Regions from separate parts of the Homo sapiens genome. Here region 2 is linked to region 1. The links come from fine-mapping of genetic effects on gene expression. A gene starts in region 1. The other region holds a variant in brackets. All regions are shown on one strand. Distances are between the middles of the regions. Region 1 holds the start of ZFP42 (ZFP42 zinc finger protein). Region 2 has its middle 28 kb from the start of TRIML2.

Evidence for each region. PIP is the estimated chance that this variant, and not a neighbour inherited with it, causes the effect.
Region 2: its variant is fine-mapped to the expression of ZFP42 in lung (TOPMed, PIP above 0.99).

What each region holds. Positions count from the first base shown.
Region 1 is chr4:187,994,589-187,997,500 of GRCh38, reverse strand. It overlaps ZFP42 (ZFP42 zinc finger protein), which reads right to left and starts at 1,730. Exons shown (of 4, transcript NM_174900.5): 1 at 1,661-1,730. RefSeq lists enhancers at 672-966, 581-1,562, 1,563-2,542.
Region 2 is chr4:188,079,977-188,082,888 of GRCh38, reverse strand. No RefSeq gene overlaps it. Among named protein-coding and RNA genes, the nearest start is that of TRIML2, 28 kb to the left of the region's middle. RefSeq lists an enhancer at 1,085-1,666. The variant CTG/G (reference allele first, on the strand shown) is at 1,257.

The DNA of each region.
Region 1 (2,912 bases):
AATCCCACCACTTTGGGAGGCCGAGGCGGGCGGATCACGAGGTCAGGAGATCGAGACCATCCTGGCCAACATGGTGAAACCCTATTAAAAATAAAAAAAATTAGTCGGGCGTGGTGGCGGGCGCCTGTAGTCCCAGCTACTCGGGAGGCCGAGGCAGGAGAATCGCTTGAACCTAGGAGGCGGAGGTTGCAGTGAGCCGAGATCGTGCCACTGCACTCCAGCCCAAGCGACAAGAGCAAAACTCTGTCTCAAAAAAAAAAAAAAAAAAAAAAGAATATGAGAGGGGAAGTAACCGAGGACGCCACCTTCATCATGAATGTCTGGAAAAGGCCCCCAAGGAGGGGGCCATCGGAGCCAGATGTGGGCAGGAGGAAAAGTGCACGGGGGTGGGAAGAGACGAGCGAAGCCTGCTGGTTCCAGGCTGCCGGCGCTCCCCGGGGGCTGCAGGCCATGCTCCATGCTCCACGCTCCATGCTCCATGCTCCACGCTCCACGCTCCATGCTCCATGCTCCCTACAGCTATGGCGGGCAGGAAGGTGGGGGCTGGGGCGAGGCCCAGGCGCGGGGCTGACGGTGAGCCCCGGGACCATTTGCATTTCATCCCAGGTCCCAAGGAAACCATTACAGGGCTTCCAACAAGCAAACAGCAAGTTTTTTTAGGTTAGAAGATGGGCCGGACAGCTGCATGGAGAATGGATTTGGGGAGAACAGAAAAATCTATTAGATTTGGGAATCCCGCGAAGGGCTGCCAGGGGTTTGGAGCAGATGGCGGCAGAGGAGATGAAATGCAGGGAGAGCGGGAAAACAGGAGAAAGAACCACCCCCTCGCCCTGCAGCTCGCCGGTGGATTGGATGAAGAGCGGAAGGGAAACAGGAATCAAGAATGAGTCTCGCCCGGCGCGGTGGCTCACGCCTGTAATCTCAGCACTTTGGGAGGCTGAGGCGGGCGGATCATCTGAGGTCACGAGTTCGAGACCAGCCTGACCAACATGGTGAAACCCCGTCTCTACTAAAATACAAAAATTAGCCGGGCGCAGTGAAGGGCGCCTGTAATCTCAGCTACTTGGGAGGCTGAGGCAGGAGAATCCCTTGAACCCGGGAGACGGAGGTTGCAGTGAGCCGAGATCGCGCCATTGCACTCCAGCCTGGCAACAGAGCGAGACTGTCTCCAAAAAAAAAGAAAAAAGAAAAGAAAGAGTCTCCTAGGTTTTTTGCTAGAGTAATTTGAGTTGGGGGTATTGCCATCTCCAGAGATAAGAGGAGAGGAAAAGAAAGGGAAGAGACTGGTGTCTTGATCACAATGTAAGCATGTTAATATAGAAAAGACTTAGCCAGATATTGTAAGGAAACATATTTACATGAAGTTTTGAAATAAAATAAAAAATGCAATTTAGGAAATCACCGCCAGACACTTGCTTTCTTGAGAGTGTATTACTTGCCCATCTGCCCGTTTTCAACATTTGAGGCCAGTGGCCAGCCACGGGTCACCGCAGGGCGAGGGCTACAAGTCTCCCGGCGAGGCCGGCTCCGGCCTGGTCCCAGGATGAGAACACGCTTCCCCTCCCTGACTATCTAACCCCTTTGACCGACACATTCCAAGTAGTGAGCAACACAACCCCCTTCTCCCCATTTGAAAAAAGTTCCATGAAACAAGACTCACCCCTGTTACCGCGAAGCACTCTGCTATTTCCAATGCCACCTCCTCCCAAACGTAAAACAAAGGAGAAACTGCAGTGGAAACGTGGACTGCCCTGCGCCCCCTCCCAAGACCCACCCTCCGGACTGACGCGGTCTAATCAGGCTACAGCCACCCATCAGCTCCGCCAGGGTTAGGGAGGGCGTGGCCGGCCCCGCCCTGGGGCGCCGCCCTGGAGCCACCTGGCCCGCGCGTTCACTCTCTGCCCGGAGCCGCCTGGCACCTGGGCGGCGCGCTCACCCTCAGCCCGGGGCCCCCAGGCACCCGGCCCGCACGCAAACCCTCAGCCCGGGGCCCCCTGACCCCCGCGTTCACCCCTCAGCCCGGCCGCCGGGCACTGCGCATCCGCCACGTGGCAGCGCCTCCAGAGCCCAGACGCCCGGCGTTGGCACGTGGTGAGCGCTCAATAAATGTCTGTTGAACAAATACGCGTGGGTGTAATCACATTTACCCTTTTAGGCCGGACGCGGTGGCTCACGCCTGTCGTCCCAGCACTTTGGGAGGCCGAGACGGGGGGATCACATGAGGTCAAGCGTTCGAGACCAGCCTGGCCAACATGGCGAAACCCCGTCTCTACCGAAAAATACAAAAATTAGCCAGGCATGGTGGTGCTCGCCTGTAATCCCAGCTACTCAGGAGGCTGAGGCAGGAGAATCGCTTGAACCCGGGATGCGGAGGTTGCAGTGAGCCGAGATCGCGCCACTAAGCTCCAGCCTGGGTGATAGAGCGAGGCTCCATCTCAATAGAACAAAACAAAACATTTACGCTTTTGCAGATCGAGGAAAAAAATCAAGCGGAGGAGGCAGTTTTTACCCCCCGAAATAGAGGTTGACTCGAACGCAAACCCCCACACCTTTCCCACCCCACCCTACCCCCAGTTGTTTCAAACACCCCCAGTGTTTGTTTTCTTTTTTCTTTTTCTGGCCATTAATGTGACTGTATTGCTAAAGGCAACACAACTCACTTTGAAAGCAATGGTCAGTCAACGCTCACTATTGGCTACAGTCTAGTGAAATGTAATAGGTCGTATAAGTACACCCAGACCATTAGAACGAAACCCAGATCGATATTTAAAAACCTCCTAAATGTTGACTTGAAGCTTTTCTGCATATATATCTGGGAGCAGTTCTCCACTTTTTTCTTTTTTTAAATCTGTTTCTGAATAAGCTTCAATTTTGAGGTTGGCCAATAAAATATAATTTTCCTTCCTTCCTTC
Region 2 (2,912 bases), 85 kb before region 1:
ACAGGATAGAGAGGAGATAAGAATTCACAGGGAATAAGGAAGGAATTTGAAGCTTTGATTTTTCGGATTTTCTGACTGGAATGTGATAAATATTATCAATGGTACATGGAAGTTAAAAAACACGTAGGTGGGTAACGGCAAAACATGGGTAAATTTGCATTTCAGTTATGCCTCGACAAATTGGAACATATATAAGAGAATGAGACTTTTGACCTGGAAAAAATCAAGTATGAGATTGGAAATTTAACCTCACATGAGAAGAAGGAATTCTCTGTAATGATAGATGGATGTGGTAGAATGATAAATAGAAAGGATGTAAATGTAAATATTGCTTCTCCTTTCAAAATAGCAATTTCAGTTTGTCGTACATTTGCTACCTGCCAGGGAAGGTTCAGAATGCTTTCTATGACCTCATCTACCCTAAGTGGCAGTACTTTTTTTTTTTAACTGAGTCAGAAATAGAGCCAATACATTCAAAATCTCCAGAGAGTGATATTCAGACTCTTGAAACCTGGGCTGTTTATTCTTTCCAACCACACAAATTGTATCTCGTTAAAAGTATTTGCAGACAGATAACAGGCTCACTGGAGGGGAGAGTTGGGGAAGTCGAGGCCTGGCAAAGATGTGGAAGTGAGGTTCACATTACTCAAAGGAAGCCGTTGATGGAAACTTAAAATTATTTTCAAAAAGTGTATTTATGTAAAATAAAATTTTTAATTAAAAAACAGGTTAAAACCAGGCTGGGTGCAGTGGCTCATGCCTGTAATCCCAGCATTTTGGGAGGCCGAGGCAGGTGGATCACGAGGTCCGGAGTTCAAGACCAGCCTGACCAATATGGTGAAACCCCGTCTCTACTAAAAATACAAACATTGGCCGGGCGCAGTGGCTCACGTCTGTAATCCCAACACTTTGGGAGGCCGAGACAGGCAGATCACGAGGTCAGGAGATTGAGACCATCCTGGCTAACATGGTGAAACCCCGTCTCTACTAAAAATACAAAAAATTATCCGGGCGTGGTGGCGGGCGCCTGTAGTCCCAGCTACTCTGGAGGCTGAGGCAGGAGAATCGCTTGAACCCAAGAGGTGGAGGTTGCAGTGAGCCAAGATCACGCCACTGCACTCCACCCTGGGCGACAGAACGAGACTGTCTCAAAAAAAAAAAAAAAAGTTAAAACTATGTGAATAAGCTTTTCCCCTCCCTAACCGTTTTAGTGAGCTTTGTGTTTATCCCAGCACTCTCTGGTCAGCTAGATTACC[CTG/G]TTTTGTGTGTCTGTCTTATTTCAGATAGGAGAACTATGTGGTCATTCCAGATACTCAGAGATACAAGAGAACTTTGTATTTGAAAAAGAGGGTGGAGGTAAAAGCTCCTGTTGCAATCTTCTTAATGGTTATCATTGTTCTTTGGCCTGTGGAATTTCTGAAGCTAAAAGCTGTTCCTACATTGGATGTTAACATTCAGAGCTTCAGATAGGAGTGAGCTATAGTCCAGGAACTGTCCATGTCAATTTCCCCTGAGAATGTGCTGTCCCTATCTTCATTGTGGAGTTAGATTGCTTGTATGGAGGGAAAAGGAGAAATAGAATTCGTTTCCTAGGTCTACAGTGATGTAGGGAACATGCTTCACCCCTTTAGCCCGAAATCTCTTCCCAAATACTTATAAAAAAGACGTGTGAATGTTCATCAAGAATGTCTTCCCCACCCTGCCTGTGTTTTTATTGATTTCTTGGGGTAATTTAATTGGCTTTATGGGTAGAGCTGAATTAATGTGGAGTCGTAGTCAATGATGAATTGCTTGATAAAAATGAAAACCTATTTCCTCAATTTAGTTCTCTTCATCCTTCTGAATTACTACATTAGCTTCCCTTCTTGCCTGCGATTATAAACACAGCCAGGCTTTAATAAAGGGCCTCCTAAGCCCGCCTCAGCATCCTTTCTTCCTCACTTCTTTGCCACGTTTCTCCATAGCTTCAGTCAGAGCCAACTAGATTCCCAAATGTGCCACCCTCGCAGGCACCCCGTGCATTCTAAAAGCTTCAGGGGCTCATTCTGACAGCACAGACTTTGGAGCCATCCTTTATTTTGCTGCCATTCTGTGTTCAATCTATCAGCAAAGACTGTCAGCTCTACCATCCATATATGTCCCTCAGCAAACACTCGCCATCCTCCCTTTGACCACACTAGTTGAGGCTGTGATCTTTCATCTGGACCGCAGTGCTAGGCTCCAGCTGGCTGCCACCACACAGGCCTTTCTTGATCTGTCCTCCACAAAGAGCGCCCTCCCTGAACATTCTCTCCAATCCCCACTCATTCTCTTACCTCTTACCCTACATTATTTTCTTTGTAGCATTAATCATGACCTGATTTAACATTATGTATTTAACTTCCTGTCTGGAATGGAAACCCCATGATGGCAAAGGCGTTAAATGAATGAACAAGAAACCCAGAAAGTGTTTATTAAACAATCCCTGTATGTCGGGTATTTGCCTTACCTGAAGGAACAAAACAAAGATCTCAGCATTAATGAACAGATGAGGAAGCTTGATTTTGAAGTTTCACAGGACAATTTTATCTAAAAAACTCTACAAATTAGCTTTTGTTTGTTTTTGTTTTTTGTTTTGTCGAACTGATGGCTACTTAATCAAGCAGCTTCTCTAGTATGCCTATAATATTTCATCATGACCCAGCAACCATTAAGTTTTGCCAAGGATGTCTCCTGAGTACAGGAAAGCAAAGAGGTGAAGGAATTAGCAAAGTGATGGTGAATGGGAAAATTCCCAGGACGACAGCATCAGTTGGCCCTAATTAGAACAAAAGGTGGAAGATTCACAGAAGGGTACCTTGAAGGAAAAAATAAATAGAATTGATTATTTCCTAGCCGTTTGGCTATGTCAAGAAAAGCTTTATAGCTCCATA